Linked DNA regions of Homo sapiens: regions 2, 3, 4, 5 and 6 are each reported to be linked to region 1. Evidence: microRNA targets listed by miRTarBase, many of them from high-throughput screens and not tested one by one. Region 1 holds a microRNA gene; each other region holds the end of a gene's coding sequence.

Region 1 (5,449 bases):
GTCACCCAGCAAGTCAAAGTTGGGGCCTTCTGGGGCCAGGTCACTAAAGGGGATCTGCACCTCTTGCAGCTGAGCCCCTGGCCTTAACCCATGGCAGCCTGTCTTGGGCTGCCATCAGAGGCAGAGTGCTAGGTGAACGGACAGACAGACATGGTGCCCTTGAGCTCCTGGAGCTGCTGTGATGTTGGTTGTTGTGGAGGTCATTGCTGGGCCTTGTGACTGGAGGCAGAGTGGGTGAAGTGGCCCAGGTGAGAGGACAAAGATCAGCCACCAGGAAGGGGCCTCCATCCTGGCTCTGTCCTCAGCTCCTCTGCAGCCGGTTCTGGGCCTTGATTTCCCCAAGTTTACCTTGGGAAATTGACATGAGAAGTCTGTGGATGGGGCTGGGAGCTCTGAGTGCCAGCTGTGCCCAGCAGTTTATTCCTAACTCTGAATCCTCACAGCAGCCTTGGTGGGTTGGAGTGACAGATGAGGAAACTGAGGCTGGGAGAGGCCTTCCTGCAGCCAGCCAGTGGAGGGAGAGAGAAGCCCAGAGGTGTAGCCCCTGCCTTTGAACCTGGAGATCCTGACCATGATCTCCTGGTGCTGCTATCAGGGGTAGATTCTTCAGACAGGTGGATGGTGGGTGAAGGCCAGGCACCCCTGGGGACTTGTGAGGGCATCGTGAGCCCTGTGTGGGGCTGGGCAGTGCAGGGAAGGAAGGAGGCTGAGCTTGCAGTGCCAGCCTTGGGCTCCCGTGGGGTGTGTCCTTGGTCAGGGGCTCCCCACTGTGTGCCCAGTGGTCCTGGTCCACGATGGGTAGGAGCAGGAGGCAGAGCCACACTGTCTGGAGGCTGTCATGCTCCCGTGCCTCCCCTCGAGGACACAGTAGGGTCTCTTCCATGTGGGAGCTGAGAACTCTGGGGCCAGGTGGAAATGGCTTTCCTAGGGGATGGGGTGGCTCCAACTCAGGCTAGTCAGACCCCTGCGGGGCCCCTGAGCTTTGAGCCTGAGATCTGTTGGGTGGTCTCACGGTGTGTCTTCAGGAGCAGGTTCCTCAGCAGGGCAGAGAGGGCAGAGCTGGTGTGTCCTGGCATGGGGGCCCGTGTGCACAGAGCTCCAGTGTTTTTGCCCTCCTAGATGAAGTTCAAGGTCATGCTGAGAGAGGCCCACGGCTCCTTCCCCTCTGTGTCCTCGCAGAGCTCTCACCTGTGGAGGGGTGCAGTGGGGCGGGGGTGCTCTGGGAGGTTGGAGGCCACTCCTGGATAGGTGTGACCCATGGCCAGGAAGAGGGGTCAGCATGTCCTGGACTGTGGAGGGGGAACTCAGAGTGGGTGAGTGCCACCTGCCCTACCTCCCCAACTCCCTGTGGGACCCCTGGCAGCTCCCCTACCCAGGGCAGTGCACCCTCACCCTCACAACAGCCATTTTGCCACTTTGGGGACAGCATGACCCTCTGAAATGGGACCCAGGACTTTTCCTCTCGGAGTGGGGGTTAGGGACTGCTTGAGACCAGGGCTTGTGGACCCTGCAGTGTGGGGCTCAGACCGCACCTCGTTAATCACATGGCGAGGAGGCCAAGGCCAGAGGTGGGAACTGGGTTTCGGGGCTCCCTTTTCTGGAACCCTTAGGAGAGACAGCCCCCACTCCCCCGCCTCCCACTGCCCTAAGGCACCTCTTCTGTCCTCTCTTTGACATGAGCCTGTGGGGGGTGCACGTCCCTGGTGGCCTCAGTGGGGGTGGGTGCCTTCTCATGGCAGAAAGAAGTGCCCAGAGTCTTGGTGGGGACGCCTTCAGGAAGGTTGGGGGAGGCCTGCTGCCCATGTGCCAGGCCCCCAGGGGCTGTTTCAGGGCAGAGCGTTTCCTGCCCCCACCCTTCCTGCCCAGTCCACTTGCCCCCTCGTCCACCCCACCTACTCCCTCCCTCCTCCCATGCGTGTCCCCTCCCCCGCCTATCCTCCCACCACCTCCACTTTTAGAACAAACCCCAAAGTCAGACAGTCTTTTAGTTTGCTTTATTTGAGGAGTGCAAAAAGATTGGGGGGTGAGAAAGCTCGGGGGGTGGGGAAGGGTCTACTCCCCTTGCAAAGCGGTGGTGTGGCCAGAGCCTCTCTGTGACTCGGCATGGTCCCCTGGGTGTCTGTGTGCCTTCTGGGACTCCATCCCTGTATGAGGGGCCCCTGCACCCCTGCACTGTCCAGTGTTCAGTGTTGGGAGGGAAAGGCGCCCCAAGGCATGCAGGGGCCCTCTTTGCTGTGCAAGTCTGGTAAGTGGCACTGGTACGTCCGGATGCCCCAAAGAGCGGCTTTGTCCAGGTAAGTCCAGAGCTCAGGGCAAGAGGAAGGCGGGGTCAAAAAAGCTGAAGCAGATGTGGTGGGGGTGGGGGTGGGTTTGCTTGCAGGGTGTGATGGGGGTGAGGGAGGCACCACATCATCAGATGTCGGGAGGTTGGGGGATGGGGGTTGGGGGGCGGGGGCGGGAGCTCAGGGGAGCAGGAGCACCGGCAGTGGAGGTAGAAGAAGTCAGTGGAGCACCCGAGGTCAGTGTCCCAGGGTGGCCATCACCAGGCCGGGTGGGGGGCCCCGTCACCTGCTTGCTTGGCTGCGCCTGCTGTGCCTGCTTCTTCATCTGGCCACGCGTCATGGGGTCACTTCCTGCTCACCACTGCTTTCTCCCTCATGGATGTCACTCCCGGGCATGGGCTTGGGACCTGGAGAACGGAGAACTCGTAGCCCAGGGCTGGCGCTGGGTCTCTGAGGACTGGGTAGTCCGTTAGCACAGGTGGCATTGCTGGTTGATGAGTTGAAGAAGTTGTTGCCCTTCACAAGTGGGTTCCTCTTGGGTCAGGAGTGGCAGGAAGGGAAGCGAAGCAGGCTGAGGCGCGGGGAGGCCAGGGGACGTCGGGAGGTGTTGGGGTGAGAAATAGAGGGGACTCTTTGCTGGAGACAGGGAGGCGTCTTCAGTCGAGGTTAGCATCTTCGTCCTCATCAGGCAGCTCTTCTAGCCTTGCCTGCTCCCTGGGCTGGCTCTCCCAGGCGGGGATGGGCAGGGCCCGCCTGTAGATCAGGGTCAGGAACTGGCTCAGGGCCCTGGCTGCCTGCTCCCGGCTGAGCAGGTGCAGCTGGCCATCTGCACTGTGGATGTGGAGCAGGCGGCTACCAAGGAATTCCAGGACCTGGGGATCCATCAGGTGGCGTGGGCGGGGTGGGTGGGTGGCTGCTGTGTGGCTGGGTGGGGCCTCCTGCACGTCGTTGTCCTGCTTGTCCTGCGAGGTGTCTTGCAGGCCGTCATGCAGGCCACACTGACGGTAACGTTGCAGGTCGTCTTGCAGGGCTTCTCGCAAGACGACATCCTCATCACCAACGACGTGCAGCTCCAGGTAGCGGTTCTGACGCAGGGCAGGGAGGTGGCCCTCCTGGGGGGTGACTCTGACACCGAAGAACTCACACAGCGTCAGCCAGAAGCCAGGGGTGAACTGCAGGCCTCGGTGGGCCTGGGAGTGCAGAGCATTTCGCTGCCAGCGGCCAGGGCCCAGGAACAGCTCAGCCAGCTCCTGGGCTGGGATGGTGTTTGCACCTACGAGAGCGGGCATCTGGGTGAGCAGCTGGGTGATGGCTGTCGTGATGCTGCTGCCTGCGATGAGGGACGAATCCAGGATGAGTCGTAGGGAGCGCTGGGGCTGGGGCCGAGCCACCCGCATGGCGGGTGCCGGCCGCAGCGAGAGGCATTGCCTCACGCGCAGTAGCACGAGGATGGCTGCCAGGGCTAGGGTGTTCTTCCAGTACAGGAGGCCTCGGAAGAAGTGCAGAATGACGGCCCTGATCTGGGCCATGCTGAAGTGGGCGAGGAAGCTGTTGAGGATCTGGTCGATGGGTATCATGGCCAGCAGCTCTTGCCGTAGGATCTGTTCATTGAGCTCATCCTGTTCTTCATTCTCTTCTTCCCCGGATTCCGTCGATGGATCCCTGGGGAATCCCCTTGAGGCCAGCAGCAGGGTTTGCCTGGCGGCAGTGTTCCTCTGGAAGGCTCTCCTCCACCGGAGGTTTCTCACAGGTGGCAGAGCTCGGCCGCCGTCTTGTTCTGGCAGCTCCATGACGTCAAAGTTGAAGTGGGAGAAGAAGAAGACCCAATGCCCGGGGAGAAGTACGGTGAGCCTGTCATTATTCAGAGAGGCTAGATCCTCTGTGTTGAGAAGGATCATGATGGGCTCCTCGGTGTTCTCCAGGTAGCGGCACCACACCATGAAGGCAGCCCGTATTGGAAGAATCTTCATCTCCGCTTGAGAGTACTCAACCTCGATAGGGGAGATGTTGCGGGAGTAGAAAGCGCAGCAGGCTCTCTTGCCGGTTTGGTCGTCGATTTGGATCAGGGAGGCGTGCAGGGCCGTGCCGGTGACGCCGGTTTCCAAGTAGAATGGGTTCTGGGGCTTGGGGTGGTGGAGGAGAGGCGCCTTGCGGAAAGCCCTCTTCAGGCACTCGAAGGCCTCTTGCTCCTCGACTCCCCAGTAGAACTGGTAGGAGCTCAGCAGCTGCCGCACCAGGGGCTCTGCGATGATGCTGAAGCGCTCCACGAAGTGGCGGTAGGGGAAGACGAATTCGATGAAGTTTCGCAGAGATAGCTTGGAGCCAGGGGTAGGGTACCCTGTTATGATGGTCATGACGTTCTTGTTCAGTTTCACCCCTTTGGGGGTGACGACGAAGCCCAGGAATTCCACGGTTTGGCGGTGGAACTGGCTCTTGTCCAGGGAGCAGTAGACGTTGTGATGGCGGAAGCGGACCAGGACTTGGCGGACGTGGTGGAGGTGCTCCTCCTGACTCATTGAGTAGATCAGGACTTCCTGGCCATAAGAAAGCACAAAGAACCCTAGCATGTCCTTTAGGATGAAGTGAATCACGTTCTGAGGTATGATAGGGTCTGGGGAGAGCGCAAACGGCTGGTAGCTCTTCATCTCTTCAAGCTCCAAACCAAACGCTGCTTTCCACACATCTTCGGTGCGGTGCCCGTTCACGCTTTCCTCCACAATGGTCCCACGCAGCTCCAGTTTTGTGAACCACTCGGCTCCGTGTAACTGGTCAAACAGTTCCGGAATCATCTGTATGTAGTCCTGTCTGTTGGTCAGCATGTCCTGCAGGTCCCAGTATTCCTCCTGTAGCCTGGCTCTTTCTTGCATCCTGGCACCCACAGGTTCCCAAGGCGCGGTGGAGGGACACTCGTAAAAGGTCTCGCTGTGATCACTGTCTCCAGCCTGCTGAAGCTCAGAGGGCTCTGATTCAGAAAGATCATCGGATCCGTCTGAGCTTGGCTGGTCGGAAGTCTCATCATCTGCTTCCTTCGGGTTAAACACGTCGGCCAGGTCTGAGTATGGGTGTGGCAGTCCGGGTAGCAGGCTCATGCCGTGCCTCTCTAGGGCAATGCATGGCGGGGGCGGGCGGAAGCAGTTCTTCAGGCAGTAGGGAGAGTGGAAGGTGCA
Region 2 (5,449 bases), not on the chromosome of region 1:
TAGCTGGGACTACAGACACATGCCACCATGCTCAGCTAATTCAAAACATGTTTTTTTTCTGTAGAGATGGAGACTTGCTATGTTGCCCAGGTGGTGGGTCTGGACCTCCTGGCCTCAAGCCATCCTCCTGCCTCAGCCTCCCAAAGTGCTGGGATTACAGGCATGAGCCACCGTGCCCAGCCCAGTTCTTCCATTTGATCAATCCCTTTCTTTTTTGTCAGTGCTTTTTTGTGTCATGCTTTATTTAAAATGTTTATTTTAAATTATATATTAACAATTATTTACTAACATTTATTATTTTTGTGATTTTAATATTTTTTCTTTTCCCGAGATCATGAAGATATTCTTCTGTGTTAATTTCTAGAAGCTTTATTATTTGGTTTTTATGTTTACATTTACCATCCTCTTAGAATGGATTTCTGTGCATCATATGAGTTAGGGTTTATATATTTTTTTTCTCCTAAAATGTACTAATGCAGAATCTCCTCTTCCTCACTGCTTTGCAAGACCACCTTTGTCATAGAAGAAGTGCCCATATGTGTCTTCACGTTGCCAGCTTTACAATCAGTATCTTGAAATTTTCTCTAGTTTGATCATAATACATTAAACACATATCCCATCAAAGGCCATTGGAAGAATGTGGGCTGTTTCTGACTGGGCTTCACCTTCAACTTACATTTCCTTGAAAAAATAAGTCTTAGCTCTAATATCCATTGCATGGAATTTCTCCCCAGACTACTAAGTATAAATACATATAAATATATGTATGTGTATATATCTTTAGGTATAGATAGATACAACTTATGTTTATAAGAAAAGCGCATTTAGTAAAATAATTGGTTGGTGATTGTTAATTTTACTACAAGTTTGGCTCTATTAGTTTTTCAGAACGTTTTTGTCTGAATCATTTCGCTCTGTCTGTCTTAGGTCTTGTGTCTGTACTTTGTAAAAAGCTAGAGAAAATTCACATAGTACACCCATTGATTGGTAATTTTTTTTTTGTTTTTTGAGACAGAGTCTTGCTCTGTCACCTAGGCTGGAGTGCAGTGGCATGATCTCAGCTCACTGCAACTTCTGCCTCCCGGGTTCAAGCGATTCTCCTGCCTCAGCCTCCCGAGTAGCTGGGATTAAAGGCATGTGCTACCATGCCTGGCTAGTTTTTGCATTTTTAGTAGAGACAGGGTTTTGCCATGTTGGCCAGGCTGGGCTCGAACTCCTGACCTCAAGTAATCCACCCGTCTCGGCCTCCCAAAGTGCTGGGATTACAGGCATGAGCCACCGTGCCTGGCATAGGTATGTTGTTTTTTAGATATGTTAAAAATTTAGTTTATAGTAAAATCTTATTGGCCTGAGAACTATTTTTGTTCCTTGAATATTTTTTCTGTTTTCTTTTTTCCACTGAGCAATTAAATATTGGTTCACTCTTAAATCCTCACAGAGAACTATTTTTCTCAAGTTCTTGGTGACATCATAATGTTCTCAAATATACCACCTGCAGAAATCTGCCCTAGTAGTAATTATAGCTTGCTTTGTGACTCTGGGCTTTCTCCTCAATTTTGTATTTATTCTCACATTGTCTTTTTTCTTTTTTAGCTGTTTCCTGTGTTGTCTTCCTAACTTGGCAACTTCTTAGGGGCTCACTGCATTCTTTAAATGCAATGTTTATAGTACAGATTCTTTTCTTTTCTTTAAAATCATACTTCCTTTTCCTGCCCTTAGTCTGGCCATCTTTTCTCAGCAAGAATCACAAGTGGGACACATTAATAATTTTTCATAACCTTTAGTTATGTAGAATAGAACATTATTCAAGTCCTTGCACAACTCTCACTTTCAGCATTTCAACATAAAGAACATTTGAATTTTTAAAATTTTCTTTCAGTCGAGGATTACTGGTTTGAAACAAAGATGTCAGCCCTAAAGCAAAGCACTTCTGAAGCATCTGTTCTGGGAGAGCGAACGAAAAGTGTCATGATGGAAAAAGGCCTGGACTGGGAGGGCAGAAGCTCCACAGAGAAGAACTATAAGTGCAAGGAATGTGGGAAAGTCTTCAAATACAATTCGTCCTTTATTAGCCACCAGAGAAATCACACCAGTGAGAAACCACATAAATGTAAAGAATGTGGGATCGCCTTTATGAACAGTTCATCCCTTTTAAATCACCATAAGGTTCATGCAGGCAAACAGCCTTATAGATGTATTGAATGTGGGAAGTTCCTGAAGAAGCACTCAACGTTTATCAACCATCAGAGAATTCATTCTAGGGAGAAACCCCACAAATGCATTGAATGTGGAAAAACTTTCAGAAAGAACTCAATCCTTTTAAGTCATCAGAGAATTCATACTGGCCAGAAACCCTACAAATGTAATGACTGTGGGAAAGCCTTCGCTCAGAATGCAGCTCTTACTCGTCATGAAAGAATACATAGTGGAGAGAAGCCTTTTAAATGTAACAAGTGTGGGAGAGCTTTCAGGGATAATTCAACTGTGTTGGAACATCAGAAAATCCATACTGGTGAGAAGCCATATCAGTGTAATGAATGTGGAAAAGCCTTTAGGAAGAGCTCAACTCTTATTAGTCACCAAAGAATGCATACTGGGGAGAAACCCTATCACTGCAGTAAATGTGGAAAATCTTTCAGGTATAGCTCATCCTTTGCTGGTCATCAGAAAACTCACAGTGGAAATAAACCGTATCAGTGTCGTGACTGTGGGAAGGCCTTTACAAAGAGCTCAACCCTTACTGGACATCAGAGAATTCATACTGGAGAAAAACCCTATCACTGTAAGAAATGTGGGAAAGCCTTTCGGCACAGCTCAGGCCTTGTTGAACATCAGAGACTCCATACTGGGGAAAAACCTTATAAATGTAATGAATGTGGGAAAGCTTTTCCCCGAAGTTCAGCCCTTAAGCAACATAAGAAAATTCATAATAAAGAAAGAGCCATGAAATGTAGTTAGTGTGGCAAATTGTGCAGAGTAGTTTATTCCTTCTGACCATCATAGAGGAGACATTAAATAAATTATGCATTTAACAGAAATACTCTGTACTTCTGAGAGAACACATCACTTGTGAGGATATTCATTGTGAGGTTCTACTAGTGAAATATTTGAAGAAACTAAATGTATGTCAGTATGGAAGTAGTTATAGCATACTGTGTGCTAATTGAAAAGAATGAGGTGGAGCTGTAAATACTGTACAAAGCCAGGCATGGTGGCATATGCCTGTAGTCCCAGTTACTTGGGAGGCTGAGACAGGATTGCTTAAGCCCAGGAGTTTGAGTCTGTAATGCACTATGATTGTGCATGTGAATAGCCACTGCACTCCAGCCTGGGCAACATAGCAAGACTCCATCTCTAAGTAAAAAAATACAACAGTAGAAATATACCCATGATAATATACCCAATATACCCTTGTTAAAGAAGCAAGTTTCAGGAAATCTATATTATATGCATTCAAAAAGACCTGGACAAATAAAGACCAATCTTAACAGCAGTTATCTCTCTCTCTCTCTCTTTTTTTTTTTTTTTAAAAGAAACTAGCTCTTACTCTGTCACCCAGGCTGGAGTGCCATGTGATCATAGCTCACTGTAGTTTTGAACTTGGGCTTGAACAACCTTCCCACTTCAGTCTCTGGAGTAGCTGGGGCTACAGGCACGTACCACCACACTCAGCTAACAGCAGTTATCTTTGATGAGGATGTAGTATAGGTTGAGCATCCATAACTGGAAAATCTGAAATCTGAAGTGCTCCAAAATCCAAAATTTGTCTGAGCACCAACAGGTACAAAATTCTACACCAGACCTTATGTGATGGGTTGCAGTTAAAATGCACCCCCGGCCGGGCGCGGTGGCTCACGCCTGTAATCCCAGCACTTTGGGAGGCCGAGGCGGGTGGATCATGAGGTCAGGAGATCGAGACCATCCTGGCTAACAAGGTGAAACCCCGTCTCTACTAAAAATACAAAAAATTAGCCGGGCGCGGTGGCGGGCGCCTGTAGTCCCAGCTACTCAGGAGGCTGAGGCAGGAGAATGGCGTGAACCTGGGAAGCGGAGCTTGCAGTGAGCCGAGATTGCACCACTGCAGTCCGCAGTCCGGCCTGGGCGACAGAGCGAGACTCCGTCTCAAAAAAAAAAAAAAAAAAAAAAATGCACCCCCAAGATTCCTTATTATTTGCATGCAAATATTGCAAAGTCCAAAAAAGTCTGAAATCCTAAATACTTCTGGTCTCACGCATTTCAGACAAGGGATACTCGACCTATATTGGTATGATGAAGTGAAATTATGACTTTGACTGAGTTCTTTGAAATGAAATATTTAATCAAGCATCATTCATGTATCTTCTGTAACTTAGTATAGTTATCTTCCTATATAAGAAAACTCAGAAGTCATAAAAATAAGACAAATGCCACACAGAAACTAAAAGCTTTTAGTTTCTGCAACTAGAGGCTTCGTAGTATTAAAATACAAAGGGCTGGACTTGGAGAAAATATTACCATCATCATATTTAACAGGTAACACTTAGACTATTTAGAGAGTCCTTAAAATACATAAATATAAAAATTCCAGTGGAGAAATGGTCTTGGATGTGAATGTACAGTTGTCAGAAAAAGAAATATAAATGATTATGCCTACCAACTTTGACCTTTTGACCTAACATTTCTACTTAAAATCTAATTAAAAAGTAAAGGTGGTCTTTACAGCATTGTAGTAATGAAGAGGTGGAATCACTGTAATATCTGTCATCAGAGGAATGTTGAAGATACATGCAGTCTTTGGACTACCATGTAGTCACTCAACATTTAATTAAAAGACAGTCCTTTAATTAATTAACATTTGGTGAGTTAGACTTTTATGAGCTGACAGGCAAAGTTGTCTATGACATTAAGTTGAAAAAGATCCAAAGTAAAGAATAATGGTATAGTACTTCTTTTGTATAGTCAATGCATTGCCTGAATATTTTGTGATAAAAATATATCATGGATATAGTTCACAATGTAAAAGCAATAAAGCAAACTTAGGAATGTTATAAAATAGAAAAGAAAGGATCTAAGTATTCAACTGATGATTGCAGAGGGCCAGATTTAATCAAAAGAAGCACGGCTGCACACACATAGATGATTGTTGGTAAGAACTGGTTAAGCTGCTTTGGATAACAGTTTGGCAACATGAATGTAAATGTAAATGTATGTTCTAATTGACCCAGAAATGCCACCCTCAAACATTTAAGGAAATAATTTGACTAACTTACAGAGCTTGTATTGCTCATCGTCATTGGTTATACTAATATCCTGGAAAGAGGTGGGAGAAATATCTAAGTAGGGAAATGTTTAAATAAGTTATGAAACTCTCATAGGCTAGCATCCCAGTTACTACAGATGTATAATAAACCGTCACACACTTAGTTGCCAGTATTTGTGTTCACAGATTTTGTGAGTCAAGGATTCAGAA
Region 3 (5,449 bases), not on the chromosome of region 1:
CATTTCCTTGATGATTAATTATGTTGAGCACCCTTTTATATACCTGTTGGCCATCTGTGTGTCGTCTTCGGAGAAATGTCTTTTCAGGTCTTGCCCATTTTTAAAATTGAGTTGTATGAATTCTTTATAAATTTTGGATACTAACCCTTTTCCATATATATGCCTTACAAATATTTTTTACTCAATCTGTAGGCTACTGTTTCATTTTGTTGACTGTTTCTTTTACTGTCAGAAGCTTTTTGGTTTGATGTAGTCACATTTGTTTTTGTTTTTGTTGACTGAGCTTTTGGTGTGATATCCAAAAAATCATTGCCAAGGGTCAGTGTCCAGGAACTTTTCTCCTATGTTCTCTTCTATAGTTTCTGGTCTTACATTTAGGTCTTTTATCCATTTTGAATTGATTGTTGTGTAGGTCTAAGATAAGGGTCTGATTTCATTGTTTTGCATGTGGAAGTGCAGTTTTCCCAGCATCTTCATTAAGAACACTTAATGAAGACTGTTCTTTCCCCGATGTGTCTTCTTGGTGTCTTTGTCAAAAATTAGTTGACTGTGTATGTTTGGATTTATATCTGGACTCTTTCTTCTGTCCCACTGGCCTGTGTATGTGTTTTTATACCAGTACCATACTGTCTTGATTACTATAGTTTTGTAGTATAATTTATAATTAGGAAATGTGATGTCTCCAACATTTTTTCCTCAGTATTCTTTTGCCTATTCAGGGTCTTTTATCGTTACATATGAATTTTAGGATTTTTTTCTGTTTGTGTAAATAATGCCATTGGAATTTTGATAGGATTGCATTGATTCTGAATTGCTTTGGGTAGTGTGACCATTTTAACAGTATTATTCTGATCCATGAGCACGGGATACCTTTCCATTTATTTGTGTCTTTCTTTCATCAGTGTTTCATAGTTTTCAGTGTACATACAGATCTTTTACTGCCTTGGTGTTAAATTTATTCCTAAGTAAGTATTTTTTTTATGCTATCATAAATGGCATCTTAATTTTTCAGTTAGGTCATTATTTTCATTATTTATGTATAAAAATGCTAATGCTTTTTGTATGTTGATTTTGTATTCTGCAACTTTACTGAATTCACTTGAGTTCTAACAAACAGATTTTTTTTGTGTGTGTATCTTTGGGGTTTTTACATAGAGCCCAGTTTTAGTTTTAATAGAAATGTTTATAATAGTGGATGGAATAAAGACTTTGTATGATTACTGTGAACCACTATCTCTCTCTATATATATAGATAGATATGAATGAGTATGTGTATAAATACATAAAGCAAAGGCTTTGAGAAACAATACTCATCTTTGCTTTCTGTAACATACTATGGCACTTTCTGTTTTATTTTCATTATAAAATGTCAAACATGACCCAGTGGGGTTGTGATTAGCAATTAGAGAAACCCCATCCTAGGTAATAAAAAGTTTTCCCAAATAGCACCTATATGTCTTTCTGACTGTGGTTTAATGAGTAATTAAGACCATTCAGCCAAGATTTACATTTGCTGCCACCTTTAATAGCACTGATGAAAAGTAGAACTTTTTTTTTTGACTTCTTTTTCACTGTGCCTCTAATCAAGAAATTTTTGTTAAAATATTAAGGGTTTTTAATGTTTAAAGAATGAGACATAAAAAAGTTGCAGAAAATAAATGATAAATTCTTATTTATTGAAAGACATTCAGTTGAGGAATAGGGATATAACTGTTTGTTAGGTAAGCTTATATGGCACATGATTAAGTTCCACTAATTCGTATTTCTGCATTATGCTTTCTGATAATTCCGGAGCATTATACTCATGCAGCAGTGGTAGGAAGTACTGATGTTTTTTTAAAAAATGTCCATTCTTGGCCAGGCGCAGTGGCTCACGCCTGTAATTCCAGCACTTTGGGAGGCCGAGGTCGGCGGATCACGAGGTCAGATCAAGACCATCCTGGCTAACATGGTGAGACCCTGTCTCTACTGAAAAAAAAAAAATTAGCTGGGCATGGTGGCAGGTGCCTGTAGTCCCAGCTACTTGGGAGGCTGAGGCAGGAGAATGGCATGAACTTGGGAGGCAGAGCTTGCAGTGACCCGAGATTGCGCCACTGCACTCCAGCCTGGGTGACAGAGCAAGACTCTGTCTGTCTCAAAAAAAAAAAAGTCCATCCTCTTGATAAAGCAGTGTAACATCAGGAAGATTTAGTTGGGGTCATTGTCTACCATTTGAGTATGCGATACCCTAATGTTAAGAAATCAAGTCTAAGTCTAGGAAATTTAGACCAATTATTTTTGATATACAAAACTTACATATATAAATGCAGTAGTTGTACCTGGCTTTCAGCTATTTTTGTGTTGACATTTTCCATCATTTATGGTCTGTCCCAAGCACAAAATCCATGGGATACCAGGTAATGATATAATGTAGTAGTTGCACAGTTTGCTTTTCCATACTGTTCAGGAATCCACGGATTTATCTGAAGGTTCTTTTTTCTCTCCTATAGTATCACTAAGGATTTCATCAGATATCTTAGCTGTGGTAGGTGTAGTCTGGGGAGTCACAGTGTGTCCAAACCCTTGGTAGTGACCCATGGGTGAAGGTGGCATAGAAGAAGCAATGGAAATTGCATCTTGTGATGATGATGATAATAAACTTGTATGTTCATTTTGATCTTGATCCTCGGGAAACAATTTTTTCCTGGGATGTCCCCTGACTGTCCGTCCTTTAATATAAAGTTTTCTGTTAGTCAAAAGTTATTTTTACCATTATAAACTTACCATTCTAAAAATAAGCTCCCCACTTCCCCCTCTCCCACTCCCCAAAGTTGATGAGCCTGCACTGTGGTACTGCTTTAAAGTCTTTTTTCATCTCTAAATAGATAATAAATTGCCCTAGTAGGAGAAATTCAATATCCTACCCAACCTATTTGGTTGAATTAAATAGCTGGTACTTACCAACATGCCTTACTTGTTCAGAAATATCATCTCTAATATCTGAGACATCCCACATGGCAAGAAAGGAATCAAAGCATGAGCCCTCTTCTGCTTCTTGGACATATGGTTTATATGAGAATGTGTAATGATGAGCAATGGCAGCGAGGAACATCTCAATACAGATAATAAAATCCTATGAGAACAACAATAAGATAACAGCCACCTTTGGATTTAAATCTAGGTTTGTAGAGTGCTATCTTTCTCTACTTGCTTTTCAAAAGTGCTAAGATAAACAGCTGTGTTTTTTCTTCTCAGATTATATTCATTTTTCCATTTTCTAAAATAATTATTTTTGACCCCTTCAAAAAAAGACAAAATGCCAAAATGTGAATCTATTTTGCACTTCCTCAAGTAGCAGCCTTGAACTCCTGCATTCAAGCAATCCTCCCACTTCAGCCTCCCAAGTAACTAGGAGTATAGGCATGTGCTGTCATGCCTGGCTAAGTATTTTATTTTTTAGTTTTTTGTAGAGATGAGGTCTCTCTTTGTTGCCCAGGCTGATCTCGAATGCCTGGTCCAGTGATCCCCCAACGTTGGCCTTACAAAGTGCTAGGATTACAGGCGTGAGTCACTGCACCAGGCCAGCCTCAAGTATTTCTTAGCAAAGTACATTTCATTCTCAATCACATCAAGTATATTGCATTCCACCACCCAAGGACTACAAGGAGAAATGTGGAAAGAGAATTGGACTTAGGAATAATGAAATCCAGGTTTTATTCATGGATCTGCTACAAATTAGTAATTATGGCCAATTTCTCTAGGGTTCCCCTGTTTTCTCACCTGTAAAGTGAGGATAATAGCCCCATACCCTGTGTGTTGTCAGGTTTAGTGGAGATATGTAAAAATGCTTAACAAATAGTAAAGTTCTATTGAATTCAGAGATGGCACTACTTACCTGGAGTCCGGTGGCCACAGCTTCTACAGTTTGCCATTCCCACGTATGCTTTTCAGAAATAACGCCAACTTTTACCAACAAAGCAATAACTACTGCTTGCCTATATGTTAGGAAAAGGTAAACGCCAAATCTATATCAAGCATAAAATGAGCAGTAGTTTTAAAAATGTGCCATTAAAAAAAAATCCAGTGCAACCTGTGTACCACCACCACCCTGCCTTTACAGCATATTGCTGAAGAAACTCTATGTTAAATATATTAATTTGCTTTACAAATTCATTTTTCTAGTAGTTTTGTCTCAAGATAGGGAGTCAAGCTGAGCATTTCAAGCAAATCTAGAGATAATGGCCCCAGGTAAAATTTAAACAGCAAATAATGACATGGACATGCTTTCATAGTTGTATACATAAGAATATTCACTTCAGTGTTTCTTATAATGGTAAAAAAATTAGGAACAACCTGAATATCAAAAGGAGATTAGTAAAAAGTTATATCCACATAACAGAATACTAAGCAAAATAAAAATAAAAATAAAAATCACCCCCTCCACAAAACAAAATAATATTTCTGTTTACTGACAAAGAACTGTATCTACAATATACTACTGAACATTGTCGAATTCCAAAAATTTTTATAGTATGAAACTTTCTCTGGAGTTTTATATGTGACACAGGTTTACCAAGATGTTAATCATTCTTTTCTGGGTGGTGGGATTTCAGGGATTTTTCTTTTTCCCTTTTTGTATTGTTTCTAGCTTGTTAAATTTGGTGTATTTGTTTCTAGGACCCCTATTACCCACCTCTTTACTAAATTCTTTTTTTTTTTTTTTTTGAGACAGAGTTTCACTCTGGTGCCCAGGCTGGAGTGCAGTGGCATGATTTTGGCTCACCGCAACCTCTGCCTTCTGGGTTCAGGTAATTCTCCTGCCTTCCCTGCCAAGTAGCTTGGATTACAGGTGCCTGCTACCATGCCTGGCTGATTTTTGTATTTTTAGTAGAGACTAGCCATGTTGGCCAGGCTAGTCTGGAACTCCCAACCTCAGGTGATCCACCTGTCTTGGCCTCCCAAAGTGCTGGGATTACAGGCGTGAGCCACTGTGCCCGGCCCTCTTTACTATATTGAACTATGTATAGTTTTACCTTCTGTTTTAAAAAGATTTACTGATTATTTTCCCATATAATTAAATATTCTACATCATGCTTTCTTCCAAACTCCATAGTATTCTATTATATGACAGGGCCATGATTTATTTTAATAATTATTCTAGTATTGACATATTTAGGTTGTCTCAAACTATTTTCTTCATATAAATGTTACAGCGACCATCTAATTATTTCTTTTGAAAATTGTAGAAGGGCTAAAAAGATGAACTTTTAAAAAGAGAAGTAGAGACATTTTAATCTATCTTCCGCATTAAGACTGTTTAAAAATCCTCCTTAATCAACGGTTTTTACTGCCCTTAAAAAAATGAGAACATTTAAAAAAAAGTAACACTTACCAAAAAGAAACAAAAACCACCAGCTTTACACAAAGAAATTTGCCAACAGGTTGGATTGGGCTCAGTTCTTCTTTTAGT
Region 4 (3,000 bases), not on the chromosome of region 1:
TATTAGAACAGTAAAAAGACAAGAAGAAGAAGATCTCCTGCGAGTAGAGGAGCAGCTAGGCTCTGATACAAAGGCAATTGAAAAGTTAGAAGAGGAACAGCATGCCCTCTTTGCCAGAGATGAAGATCTGACTAATAAACTTTCCGACTACGAACCCAAAGTTGAAGAATGCAAGACACATTTGCCAACAATTGAAAGTGCTATTCACTCTGTTCTCAGAGTCTCTCAGGATCTGATAGAAACAGAAAAGAAAATGGAAGACTTGACTATGCAGATGTTTAATATGGAAGATGATATGCTGAAAGCAGTGTCTGAAATAATGGAGATGCAGAAAACCCTTGAAGGAATTCAGTATGATAATAGCATATTAAAGATGCAAAATGAACTGGATATTCTAAAAGAAAAAGTTCATGATTTTATAGCATACTCAAGTACAGGAGAAAAGGGAACTTTAAAAGAATATAATATAGAAAATAAAGGAATTGGTGGTGATTTTTAAATTCATGACATTTATTCTGATGAACCATATCATTATACATAAATTGATTAGTCCATTGATTTTGAGTTACTTTGATACGCCTCATCTTATCCTACATTATTGGAAAATAAATGAGATGTCCACACAAATGGATTATCCACATAATCAAAGCTTATCTTTTTAAGCACTAAAACTTACTTCATTGTAACTATTTGAAATAGAAATAGTTCTTTAAAAATATTTCTCTACTTTTAAAACAAGATACTTAATATTTTTAATGTTTTTTAAAGCATTAATGAACATCATCATTAATTTCACCTATTATATTGTACCCACATATATTGATGTCTCCAGGGGCTAATAAAGAGTATTTACCACTTCACTAAATGACCCCAATTTGCCATTTTCAAACCTATGTCTCATACCTTTTCTGTCACCTGAACTTACTGTCAGGTTGGTTGGTAATGTGCCTGCCTCAGCCAGTTCACTTTCTTAGGTAATTCACTGCAGGTTAAGAATCCACACAACCAAGTTCATGGGAATTTTGTGTAAAATAAAAGATAACATGCCTGAGGGAGAGCCTGGTGCCTTTGCTATGAATTAATATGCACTTTCTGAAAACTCTAAAGCCTGGGAAACATTTTAGTTTTTGTTAAGGTTCTAAACTGTGTTACAGATACTTGTAAGACTTTTAAAATCAGAGTAAGTATGTTCTTACATAAGGCCTTTCTTAGGAATTATGTGTATATAAATCTTTGAAATATCTTTATATACCTGAGTTTTAGGTTCCAACTGTGTTAGACATGAGTTTGCTAGATCCATGGTCTCTAGATGGTTTACTTAAATAGGCCAGGCGCAGTGGCTCACACCTGTAATCCTAGCACTTTGGGAGGCCGAGGTGGGCAGATCACGAAGTCAGGAGATCAAGACCATCTGGCTAACAGGGTGAAACCCTGTCTCTACTAAAAAATACAAAAAATTAGCCAGGCGTGGTGGTGGGTGCCTGTAGTCCCAGCTACTCAGGAGGCTGAGGCAGGAGAATGGTGTGAACCCGGGAGGCAGAGCTTGCAGTGAGCCGAGATCGCGCCACTGCACTCCAGCCTGAGTGGCAAAGTGAGACTCTGTCTCAATAAATAAATAAATAAATAAAAATAAGCCTGTGGCCTGTTTTGAGGGAAAAGTAACATAACTCTGATAATTAATTATGATAATAACTATGATAGTTAAAAATACGTCATTTTAAAGATTTCCCAAACCACACCACTAAATTTGTTTTATGAATTGATTTTATTTTATTTGAAATTATATAATGTAGTCAACTGCAATATGGAAGTTTGTTCTTGTTTCTTTGTCAATAACCTTACCAGTTTTATAATGCAGTTTTTGATGGAATTAAACACAAAGAACTTGAAAGCAGTCAGTTACAAAAAGGTAGTTGTGGTCAAGTAGTTTTAATATGTAAATTTGCAAGTTTTTGGAGAACCCCCAAACTCCTTCTCCACTGGAGTTAGGAGGGCCTGTGGTAGACAGCGTGAATCATGAAAATAAGCCTGGAGAGTTCTGTTATTAAGGGGCATAGCATTAATTTTTGCAGTCTTAAAATTACACTTCTTGACTTCTGAATGTCTCTTATTTGCGTGCACTGACAAAATTCTATTTGTTTACTTTTATATTAATGGTAATAAAATAGATTATAAAGTAAGCTGGAACTTTGTTGTTTTAACCTCCATCCTGTCAAGGCAAATGTGATCTCTTATCTTATATCCTTTACGTTTAAATATTTTTTTCTCACCGATCACCACATTTAATATGAGGTTATTATGAACTTATATATACCATGGTAATGGTTACTGAAAGTAAATGGAAACAAGGTGGCTACTGTTCTCTATAATGACACAAGGGAAAGGAAGAAAACTGCACTTCTACAAGTATAACATGAGAAAACTATTAAAGTATATATGCGTTTGTATGTATGTATAGATATCTAGATAGATATATCCTGTATTTATGAAGAGGTTTTCCTATTAAGAAATTATTAGAGAGATTTAGATGTACTTAATTTGTCTTTCTCTCTTTCTTCCATTCATTTATTTAACACAGATGCTTAAAATTTCAAAAACTTTCCTGTGTATCAAATATTAAATTACATTGTTAGTCTTTTCTTTAGGGAAAATTACCAATATCCTAAAACACATTTTTGTATCTTTGTAACTGATAATAAATTTTATGTCAATTAATTTCTTATAAAGTGGCCAGGCACAGTGCCTCATACTTGTAATCCCAATACTTTGGGAGGCTGAGGCAGAGTGGCTTAAGCCCAGGAGTTTGAGACAGCCTGGGTAACATAGTGAGACCTCGTCCCTACAAAAAAAAAAAAAAAAAAAAAAAAAGTGTAAGGAGGAGTAAGGCCAGGCACAATGGCTCACTCCTATAATTCCAACACTCTGGGAAGCTGAGGTGGGAGGATCGCTTGAGCTCAGGAGTTCAAGACCAGCCTGGATAACATGGTGAGACCTCATGTC
Region 5 (5,449 bases), not on the chromosome of region 1:
ATTTGAATGATGAAATAAGGTATTAATAACTACTATTAAGCACTTCCTTGGAAGGCTTAGTATAGGGTTAATAACAGGATTTGGAATCAGAGAAAGCCAAGTCTGCCTTCCTATTCAGCAACTTACCAGCTATATGACCTTGGGTAAGTTACTGAATTTATCTGTAAAATAGGGGTAGTATTCTTGCGGTGGTAGTGATTAAATGAAAGAGTGCATGTAAAATCCTTGCTAATTAACATTTATTGACTGCCTACCATGTCCTAGACTGTTTAAAATGCTTTCCATGTACAGTAGTTTCTTTATTTTTTGAGACAGTCTCACTCTGTCACCCAGGCTGAAGCGCAGTGGTGCGATTTCAGCTCACTGCAACCTCTGCCTCCTGGGTCCAAGCAATTCTCCTGCCTCAGCCTCCTGAGTAGCTGGGATTACAGGCGCTTGCCACCACGCCCGGCTAATTTTTGTATTTTTAGTAGAGATAAGGTCTTACCATGTTGGCTGGGCTGGTCTCGAACTCCTGACCTCAGGTGATCCGCCCACCTCAGCCTCCCAAAGTGCGGGGATTACAGGCATGAGCCACTATCCACTGCATGTACACCTCCAGGAGAAGCAGGGCTGCACTGAAGTGGAGACAAGGGATGGAGGTGAAGGGAGAAGCATTCTAGATGGAAGCACTTAGCATCTGGTGAATGAGCAGAAGTGATGCTTTCAGAGAGAGTTCAGATTTCATTGTAGAAGCCCAAGCAGCAGCCGGGCATGGTGGCTCACGCCTGTAATCCCAACACTTTGGGAGGCTGAAGCGAGCGGATCATCTGAGGTCAGGAGTTCAACACCAGCCCAGCCAACATGGTGAAACCCCGTCTCTACTAAAAATACAAAAATTAGCCGGACCTGGTGGCACGCTCCCGTAATCGCAGCTACTCGGGAGGCTGAGGCAGGAGAATCACTTGAACCCAGGAGGGGGAGGTTGCAGTGAGCTGAGATTGTACCACTGCACTCCAGCCTGGGAGACAGAGGGAGGCTCCAACTCCATCTCAAAAAAAAGCAAAGAAAAAAGCACAAACAGCACTAAGATGACCCCAAGGGGAATAAAATCACTTCCAACATCACTTCCATGGGTTGCCTGCACTGACCCCACAGACAAGTCTCCCTTAGTCCCTGTGCTTCTTCAGAGCATCTACTACAACTGTAATTAATTATTGCTTAAGAATTAAATTCATGTCTAAACCTGCTAGACAGGCAGCACCATGAATTGTTCACCATCTTGCTCACCACTATTTGGTCCATATTTGTTGAATGAATGGATGGATGAACACTACATACAACTGTTACCAAAGATGACACCAAAAGAAATTAATTCCTCCGATGAAGTGAATTAATGAAAAAAATAAGTGAATGAAAAAGTGCGTGGTCAAGTGCAGTGGCGTGTGCCTGTAGTCCCAGCTACTTGGCAGGCTGAAGTGGGAGGACTGCTTGACCTAGGAGTTTGAGTCAAAGCTGGCAACACAGCCCAGCCTTATCTCTTAAAAATAAAAAAAAAAGGGAATAAATGACAGCACTGGTTGGGTGCTTGTGTTTCGAATGTATCTTAACTGCTTTCTAAATTCAGTTCCAATTAGGTTTTATGCGAGTGATTACTTAAGAGGAGGCTCCTCTCTCCTGAGTAACTGCACCTTTCTGCTGGACCTTTCAGTGTTAAGAACAGCCACGTGGCTTGTGAATCATTTGGCAAACCTGCAAAAACATTATACACACACGTATTCATTACATATGTGCACACACACACACATTCCACACATCACCACCAGTTTCATATTTGGTTTGAATAAGACTTTTAATTTACTTTATTTATTTATTTATTTATTTTTTTGAGGCAGAGTCTCACTGTTGCCCAGGCTGGAATGCAGTGGTACAATCTCGCCTCACTGCAACCTCTGCCTCCCAGGTTCAAGCAATTCTCCTGCCTCAGCCTCCCGAGTAGCTGGGATTATAGGCATGTACCACCACGCCCAGCTAGTTTTTTTATTTTTAGTAGAGACGGGGTTTCACCATGTTGGCCAGGCTGGTCTTGAACTCCTGACATTAAGTGATCCGCTTGCCTCAGCCTCCCAAAGTGCCGGGATTACAGGCATAAGCCATCGCACCCAGCTAATTTCTTTTCTTTTCTTTTTTCTTATTCAGTCTCCGTAGAGACTGTCAAAAATTGCCAGCGCTGATTATATTTCAAGTCATCACGGTGGGGTATTGGGAAAATTTCCAATTAGCAATAATCGCGTCTCGGATAAATCTCATTGGCTACGGTACTGCCACTGCAAAGCTAGCTTGACGTAGGACTTTGATGGTCATGTATAACACCTCACAGGGGCAGAACCTCCTCCATCCCCGACTCCAAAGACTCATGTAATCAGTACGCAAGAAAGTTCAGAGATGAGACCTCTGGTTGTATTCCACCTTTGGGACATGGGGGATGTCTTTAGTTCAAAGTCACAAATAAATGCAGGTTCTACAATTCAGAGGCTTCATATCCCTGCTGGAGTATTACATGTTTATTCAGGATGGACCACTTTTCTTAGCAACAGTTTCTAAACCTTTGCCAGGTCTGGGAAGTCTGGCAGGAGAGATTTCTAAGAACCAATCATTCCTGCACACACTTCTTGAAGATAATATACATTATTCCCTAGTTATCTCTTCCTAGGTTTTTGTAGGCTCATTTCAATATTACAACAATCTTTATTGGAAAACCCCAAGTATTTTGTCTTGAAAAATCAGCAATCCAGGTATTAAAAATAGCATGGAATGCCCAATTTTACTTTGATAATTACATGGTAGTCAGTTTCCGCTCCTGGCTAAAGCCTTGGATTTTCTTCTGGGCAGTTCCTAAAGGCACAGGTGGCATGGAAGAAATCATTCCATTTTCGTCTCCTCCCCTTATTTGATTGGTGTCTGGTTACCAAAAGAGTCATCAGGCCCTTGGATTACCTTCTTGAACTGATCTTCTAGATCGCAAGTCTAGGTTTGACACAGGAAAGAGAAGTTAACGCAGGCACACTCTGCCCCATCTCTACAAGGGAAAGACCAGCTTGCCTTCAAGATTCCATAGCTTCTCATGCCTTCTTTGCCTCTTCCTTTTAGTTTCTATAATCCTTCCCTTGAACTCCCATCACTGGAAGTCATCAGTAAATGCTATCCCCCAAAAATAAATGGGTTTGCTTGTTTGTTTCCTGCCCAGAATTCGCTCTCCTGGCATCAGCCCCAGATTTTCTTTAGGAAGTCACCCTTCCCTACTCTTGGTCCCTATGGTCTTCATGGTTGCACCACCTGCATCTACAGATGAAATCATGTGATCAAGGGAACTGCCACATTTTTGCACCCACAACAATTGGTTCATAGACGGGGACATCACCCAGTCAGATCCTATGAAACACCGTGAGAATCCTGGGTCCCTCAGTCTTTCCCACCAGACTGACTCTGAGAAGATATAAGAAGTTGATAAAGCTGTCTTGCACTTATTAGGCAGAGTCTATTGCAAAAGGAACTAACATGGGTAAGAACGGAACTGAAAGAAACCGGGTTCTGGTGACACTGTGAGTTCCTGCGTTAGGCAAGGCCTAAAGCAAGAATTATTCTTGGAATTTTGTTTAAGCCAGTTTGGATCCAATTTGCAACTGAAAAAGTAATGGACACATGAGCAATTCTTACACTTGTCTTAGGATATTTCACCAGAAATAAATTAGTGTCTTATTCTGTCCCAGTTTAATTACTCACCAAGACTGCCATCATGTTCCCCCAAATGCAAAAAGCCTTGTTGCTGAAAAAGAAAAAAACAAGCAGCCACGTCACGGAGGAAGAATGCAGATTCTGGGTCTTGTCACATATTTGGCACAATTTGTGAGCCCCTCACCATTTTATAGAAGTTAAGGGATGAGAGATTAAGGCCAAGTCTCCGCCATAGAAATATTGAACATGTTTTGTTTTTTAGGGAGAGTGATTCCATTCATTCATTCCACAGATACTCTTTTTTTTTTTTTTTTTTTTTTTTTTGACAGAGTCTTGCTTTATCTCCTAGACTGGAGTGGAATGGCATGATCTCGGCTCACTGCAACCTCCGCCTCTCGGGTTCCAGCGATTTTCCCGCCTCAGCCTCTGGAGTAGCTGGGATTATAGGTGCCTGCCACCACGCCCAGCTAATTTTTTTTTTTTATTTTTAGTAGAGACAGGGTTTCACCATGTTGGTCAGGCCGGTCTCAAACTCCTGACCTCAAGTGATCTGTCCACCTCGGCCTCCCAAAGTGCTGGGATTACAGGCGTGAGCCACCGCACCTGGCCGTTCCACAGATATTCACTGAGCATTCATATTATGCCAGGTAATAAATTAGGACGTGGGGTGACAAGTGCACAGACGTGGTCCTCACCTTCAGAGAATCTACCTTTAGGCCTCTAGATCCCTTACCTAAATTGTGCTGACAGTATAAATTTGCACAGATGGTAAATTACTTGTCAGTCACTTCTGTCAAGATCACAATTTCCAACATAAGTGGTATTTGCGTTAAGGTGGATTTACTGTTCATCTGTATTTTCAGGACACTCAGGAAGCAAGCAAGGCTTTGGAATTAGAGCAGGGTTTCATGTATCTTTATATTCTCTTGGTAAGAATGAAATTGATTAAATCTTTTTAAGGGAATGATATAGCAATATCTATTAACATTGTCATGTACGTGCTTTGTGGCAGAAATATTCACAAAAAATAACTTTTTAATTTTTTTTTTTTTTTGACACGGAGTCTTGCACTGTTGCCCAGGCTGGAGTGCAATGGTGTGACCTTGGCTCACTGCAATCTCCACCTCCTGGGTCCAAGTGATTTCCTGTGCTTCAGCCTCCCAAGTAGCTGGGATTACAGATGTGCACCACAACACCCAGCTAAGTTTTCTTGTTTGTTTGTTTTTGTTTTTTATATTTTTACTAGAGATGGGTTTCACCATGTTTGCTGGGCTGGTCTCGAACCCCTGACCTCAAGTGATAAGCCCGCCTCGGCCTCCCAAAGTGCTGGGGATCACAGGAGGGAGCCACTGTGCCCAGGGTAATTTTTTTTAGAGAGAGGGTCTTGTTCTGTCTCCCAAGCTGGAGTGCGGTGATGGGATCATAGCTCACTGTAGCCTCAAACTCCTGGGTTTGAGCAGTCCTCTCACCTCAGCTTCCTGAGTAGCTGAGGCTACAGTTGCATGCCACCGTGCCTAATTATTAAAATTTTTTAAGGGATGGGGTCTCGCTATGTTGGTCTTAAACTCCTGGCCTCAAGCAGTCCTCCCCTCCCACCTCAGCCTCCTGAGTAGCTGCGATTATAAACGCACAAAAAATAATTGTAACAAAATGTTTCATTACCTACTGTTTTAAGTATTTAAAAACATAGAAACAACCCAAATATCCAAATATGTACAGAATTAAACATCGTTCA
Region 6 (5,449 bases), not on the chromosome of region 1:
TCCTGAGTAGCTGGGATGACAGGCATGTGCCACCACACCTGGCTATTTTTGTATTTTTAGTAGAGATGGGGTTTCATCATATTGGTCAGGCTGGTCTTGAACTCTTGACCTCAGGTGATCCGCCCACCTCGGCCTCCCAAAGTGCTGGGATTACAGGCATGAGCCACTATGCCCGGCCCACATTTTTTTAAAAAGTTAAAATGTAAAAGCACTTTTAAGAGACAAGTTAGACAGAAGGTGGTGGAGTACATTTTCTGCTCTCCTAGCTTCTGTGTCCTTTAAACTCCTGCCCTCAACCATCCTCTTATCGTCCACCACCTCCATTCCCCTAGGATTCCCAGGTCCCCTTAGCACTCAGGGGCTGTGGTCTCACCTTCAAATGAAAAACAACAACTTCAAAATTTTATTTATTGCACACTGAGGTGTCAAGAATCCTAAGTACACTAATACTACATTGTAGACATAAACCAGGTAGAATAATGCTTAACACAAGAAAATAAATACACTTGAAGTGGAATTTCTGGCATTAGTGACTAGCTGATGTTAAAAAGCTGAATTTACCCAGAATCCACAGAGATAATGCTGAGCAGTTTTTTAGAAAGTTGGGGAGGCTTATTTCTGTTGTTTCCCTTGGGTGTTTATTTCCCTGTACCTCTCTCAGTCATCACTATTTCCTTGAACAGGGTCCAGAAACAGACTCATTTCTGGCATGTAACACATGAATATATAAAGGCGTACCATATTTATTCTTGTCAAGTACCCTGATTTACCAATCTGCAAACTAAGTTTTCAGATTGATAAATGTGAAACTGGATTCAGTTATTAAACTGGATCAAGTTTCAATCTGAAACTTAATAACTGAATCCAGGAAGTGTCAGTTAAATGGTCTTAATTAAAATGATAGTTGTTCAGAATGGCAAAATGAATCATACTGGAACACCAAAGGTCTGTTTTGCATTCGCTGAAGAAAGGTTACTTTTAGTAGGATAATTCTATAAAATGTAACTTGCATAGAAAGGCTTTATTATGGGTTCTGTCTGTCACAAATAGCATCAAATCAATCATCTCAGTTCTGGAATATGAGATTCACTACATTAAATTAATACTTTCATTCCAAAATAGAAATTCATATTTTAAACCACTGAAATTGATATAAACCACTGCTTTAATATTGTAAACCTAAATGTCCAACTATAATGACCAACTTATCTAATAATGAAAACTGCAGTAGCAGAACTATTAAGCAGATCTTTATAATTAACTTATGAAGACTATTTAACATAGAAAAATATTTATATGTAAAAAACACAGACCCAAATTACATATTCTCTATAAGTATATGGTTAAAAAACCTGCAAGAAAATATACCTAAATGCTAATGTTCATTGCATTCAGATGATAGAATTATGGATTTTATCCATAGATTTTTCTTCTAGATTTTATAGTTTTTAAAAATTATGATGCCCCTTATATTTATATTGGGAAATATACATTTAAACAAACTATTATTTGGCTACCATGCTAATATTCACAACCATGTGGCACTAGCCTAAAATAAACTTTTCAGAAGAAACTAAATTATTCTATCTAAATATTCTGGGAAACGTTTAAGTGATATTGGAATCTCTATCAAAATTTCCACACCAGAGTGAAGAAAGACAAATTAGATGTGGGATGAAAGTTGTTCTCACTGATAAGTGAGAGCTAAATGATGAGAACACATGGACACATAAAGGGCAACAACACACACTGGGGTCTATTGGAGGGTGGAGGGTAGGAGGAGGGAGAGGATCAGGAAAAATTACTAATGGGTACTAGGCTTAACACCTGGGTGATGAAATCATCTATACAACAAACCCCCATGACGTAAGTTTACCTATGAAACAAACTGGCACATGTACCCCTGAACTTAAAAGTTGTTAAAAAAAAAATTTTTTTAAGAGAGATGAAAGTGACTCAAGAAGCTGTGTCACCAAATCTTTGAGAGCTATGTCACCAAATCAAAAAATAACAGAAAACCAGACAAGATCATAAGAAATCATTTGCACAATCAAGTGGCATCATTCCAAACCACTGGAGGAGCAATGCCCGCTTTCTTTTTAAAATTCTCCTGGGAAAATTACTCCTCAGCCTCCTTTATAAATCCTTGAGGAAATGTCAAGTTCTTTCACGACAAGAAAAACTCTCAGCTGGGCACAGTGGCTCACACCTGTAATCCCAGCACTTTGGGAAGCTGAGGTGGGCAGATGCTTGAGCTCAGGAGTTTAAGACCAGCCTGGACAACATGGCAAAATGTAGTCTCTACAAAAAGATACAAAAATTAGCTGGGCATGGTGGTACATACCTGTAGTCCCAGCTACTCAGGAGGCTGAGGCAGAAGGATCCCTTGAGCCCAGGAAGTCAAGGCTGCAGTGAGCCATATCATGCCACTGCACTCCAGCCTGGGCAAAAGAGCAAGACCCTGTCTCAAAAACAAATAAATAAATACAAACGCTTCTTTACGAAAGTCTCACAAGTTTAGCTGAAAAGAGATATGGACTCTCACATACCTTATTTCAGATCTAAACATGAGTTCCTCATCTATAAAATGGAGCTAATATCACCAATACTATTGGATCATGAACAGAATTAAACCAGTTATTGGTAAATCCCCCAAAATAATAAACAAGCCATGTTTATTCCCTCATTCTATCTTACCTCTTCTCTTAGTGTTTCTCACAGTGTGGAATACCACCATTGCATCAGAATCACTGAGCACTCGCCACAAAGGTTGGTTTCATAAATCCCAGAGGCATCATGGTCCCTCTTTTTTTTTTTTTTTTTTTTTTAGAGACAGGGTCTTGCCCTGTTGCCCAGACTGGAGTACAGTGGCACAATCAAGGCTCACTGCAACCTCTGCAACCTTCTGCCTCCTGGGCTCAAGCAATCCTCCCACCTCAGCCTCCTAAGTAGCGGGGACTACAGGTGGTGCCACCACACCCAGCTAGTTTTTGTATTTTTTTGTAGAGATGGGGTTTCACCATGGCACCCAGGCTGGTCTTGACCTTCCGGGCTCAAGCAATCCGCCCACCTCAGCCTCCCGAGACTATAATCCCTGCTGGGATTACAGATGTGAGCCAACATCCCTGGCCTTAATTCTTTTATTATTTAACAAAAATTTTTTAGAGATAAGATCTCTTGTCTGTTGCCCAAGTGGGAGTGTAGTGGCGCAATCATAACTCACTGCAGCCTCAAACTACTGGGCTCAATCAATCACCCTGCCTTAGCCTCCCTAGTAGCTGGGACTGTCGGCCCACACCTGGATAATTTTTTATTTTTTGTAGAGATGAGGTCTTACTATGTTGCCCAGGCTGGTCTCAAACTCCTGGCCTCAAGCAATCCTCCTGCCTGGCCTCCCAAAGTGCTGGGATTACAGGCTTGAGCTACCACACCCTGCCATGACTCTTTAATTCTGCATTTTTGTCAGATACTACAAGTGATCCTTAGGTACTGTAAAGCGTAAGGACCATTAAAATTAAACTATTTTAATATATTTTATTACCTCATTAGGCTCAGAAACAATTAAAAATCTTCTTTCCCCCTAAAATACTTTAAAAACTTGAAGGTGTTCCTCAAGGACAGGAAAGTAAGATCTGGGGCCCTCCTATTTTAAATTAAAAACCCAAATTATTTGACCCATTCTTCTAAGGGTATATATTGTTCATACTTCAAGCATCTGTCTTCCTCTCTAAAGCCTCCCTAGTTTCTTCATCTGTCTACTTAGGAGCAACTTAAACTAGACTATAATCTATCACAGCTCAAAAAGAAAAGAGTACTTACTAAATGATCCCAAATTAAACTCGTTTAAAATTAATAAGTCAAATAAAATTAATAATTCCATTCTTCTTAGATAGCCAGTAGGAATAGCAGCTTCTTCCAAGCATGAGAGAATGGGTGTGCCTTTTATGCCCAAATCAAGAAATACCAAAAAACAAACAAACAAACAAACAAAAAACTGTCATGAATTTTAGTATCTTATTAATTTCTAATTAGATTTTAACTTCTAATTTTGGTAAGTAGTTCAAAATAACAACAACAACAACAAAAAAAAAAACACCTGAAACTAGTGGAAAAAACTTCCACAGCTTTATAATATCGTAGCATTCTTTACACAAAAGTCAATTCCTAAACCCTCAAATTTCAGAACATAAAAATAAATTTCCATTTACAGATTTCCCCCTTCCAGTTCCAAAAGTAGTTATTCTAGAGTAAGTATTCAACACATAAAATTTAGCTGAATCAAATAAAAAACAATCACCAAATGCAAATATCAATTCCAAAGCACAGATTTTATATATACTGCTTTCATATTTCCCTTTTGCTTCTTTTCTAGATAAAAGCAGGAAATTGTAAATATTCACTAAAAAACTCGAACCAAGCACATTGGCCTTTTCAAGTAATTCAGAAAAGGTAGATCATCAAGAGAAACTCCTGAGACACAGCAGTCTTCAGTGCATTCACAAGAGCCTCTGACTATAAGCTTTCTCTAGTTAACCGCCAGAAGATGGATTACTTGTGCTATGCATGCAGATGCACTCAATTTCCTTTACCAGATAAGCTACAAACACTCTACTACCAACCAAACTTGTCCCTTCCATCAAAACATTTTTCATACTCTTTAGCAAAGTAGTCACCCCTCCTAGGAGAAGCTAATTCAAATACACTCATTAGCATCTTTGGTTACAAGAGCAATATAGTGTGTAGATGCAGTTAAGAGTTCTACCATGGCTAAGTCAACATTGGATAAAATCCTATAGGTAGATATAAATGTAACCTGCATTTTCTAAGCTCCTTATAAGTCATCATATTAAGTCCAGATCTTTTTGAAATTTTATACTTATTAAGGGCAGTCATCTCTCACTGGGGCCACTTTCTGTAACTCAGGTCAATTGAGAAGGTCATTGAATATGATTCCTCCAGTCCCTTCCAAGACAGGCTAGGTTTCCAAGGGGCACACAAAGGACAAGAACATGTCCAGCTGGTTCTTCACAATAACTTCATCTGGATGCAGCTTGTGCGGTAGATAATGGGCCAGGGTCATCTCCCAGGCATCGACGAGATATACTCCAACCCCTGAGAACATCCTCCGAAGGATGGTGTCCAGCTGAAAGTTGTACCAGTCGCTGTTGAAAAGGCTCACCTCAGGTCCCAGCTCTTGGGCGTTGGCCGTCCGGATGACCACCACGGTCTTTGGGCTTCGATCGAGGAGCCGAACCACTGCTCGACGGATGTTCCTGAGCCGCCGGATGTACACTTCCAAAGGGAAGGTGCTGAAGTGAGACCATACAGCTATGGCAACCACTGTGTTCTTCCCTCCCACAATGCCATTCAGCTCATTCGCCACATAATGGAGCTCATTGCTAAAGACAGTCGTGAAGCGGATGGGTGGACCATGGCAGCGGTATTTGAG

Evidence for each region. Region 1 holds the annotated microRNA hsa-miR-431-5p (UGUCUUGCAGGCCGUCAUGCA, at 3,253-3,273, shown strand). A microRNA usually pairs through its seed, bases 2 to 8, with sites in the 3' UTR of a target mRNA and lowers its output. Matches are read on the target gene's strand: a 7mer-m8 pairs with bases 2 to 8, a 7mer-A1 pairs with bases 2 to 7 and ends in A, and an 8mer does both.
Region 2: the mRNA of ZNF485 is a reported target of hsa-miR-431-5p. Seed matches in the 3' UTR shown: 7mer-m8 at 3,341-3,347.
Region 3: miRTarBase lists TMEM184C as a target of hsa-miR-431-5p. Seed matches in the 3' UTR shown: 7mer-A1 at 628-634.
Region 4: miRTarBase lists IKBIP as a target of hsa-miR-431-5p. The part of its 3' UTR that is shown has no 7-base or 8-base seed match.
Region 5: the mRNA of TMC5 is a reported target of hsa-miR-431-5p. Seed matches in the 3' UTR shown: 7mer-A1 at 2,751-2,757.
Region 6: miRTarBase lists NXPE3 as a target of hsa-miR-431-5p. Seed matches in the 3' UTR shown: 7mer-m8 at 2,838-2,844.

What each region holds. Positions count from the first base shown.
Region 1 is chr14:100,877,774-100,883,222 of GRCh38, forward strand. It overlaps MIR431 (microRNA 431), which reads left to right and starts at 3,234; the gene lies at 3,234-3,347. It overlaps RTL1 (retrotransposon Gag like 1), which reads right to left. Exons shown (of 4, transcript NM_001134888.3): 4 at 1,980-5,449. The coding sequence ends at 2,939. It overlaps MIR433 (microRNA 433), which reads left to right and starts at 4,113; the gene lies at 4,113-4,205. It overlaps MIR127 (microRNA 127), which reads left to right and starts at 5,206; the gene lies at 5,206-5,302.
Region 2 is chr10:43,614,412-43,619,860 of GRCh38, forward strand. ZNF485 (zinc finger protein 485) reads left to right here. Exons shown (of 5, transcript NM_145312.4): 5 at 1,880-3,493. The coding sequence ends at 2,958. Among named protein-coding and RNA genes, the nearest start is that of ZNF485, 11 kb to the left of the region's middle.
Region 3 is chr4:147,631,428-147,636,876 of GRCh38, reverse strand. It overlaps TMEM184C (transmembrane protein 184C), which reads right to left. Exons shown (of 10, transcript NM_018241.3): 7 at 5,372-5,449; 8 at 3,875-3,974; 9 at 2,941-3,112; 10 at 156-2,708. The coding sequence ends at 2,443. Among named protein-coding and RNA genes, the nearest start is that of TMEM184C, 17 kb to the right of the region's middle.
Region 4 is chr12:98,623,429-98,626,428 of GRCh38, reverse strand. It overlaps IKBIP (IKBKB interacting protein), which reads left to right. Exons shown (of 3, transcript NM_153687.4): 3 at 1-2,180. The coding sequence ends at 499. Among named protein-coding and RNA genes, the nearest start is that of IKBIP, 20 kb to the left of the region's middle.
Region 5 is chr16:19,495,477-19,500,925 of GRCh38, reverse strand. TMC5 (transmembrane channel like 5) reads right to left here. Exons shown (of 22, transcript NM_001261841.2): 21 at 3,763-3,805; 22 at 1,813-3,006. The coding sequence ends at 2,960. It also overlaps the pseudogene RNU4-46P. Among named protein-coding and RNA genes, the nearest start is that of TMC5-AS1, 10 kb to the right of the region's middle. RefSeq lists a silencer at 4,205-4,416.
Region 6 is chr3:101,821,481-101,826,929 of GRCh38, reverse strand. It overlaps NXPE3 (neurexophilin and PC-esterase domain family member 3), which reads right to left. Exons shown (of 8, transcript NM_145037.4): 8 at 1-5,449. The coding sequence ends at 4,976. Among named protein-coding and RNA genes, the nearest start is that of NFKBIZ, 25 kb to the left of the region's middle. RefSeq lists a silencer at 33-112.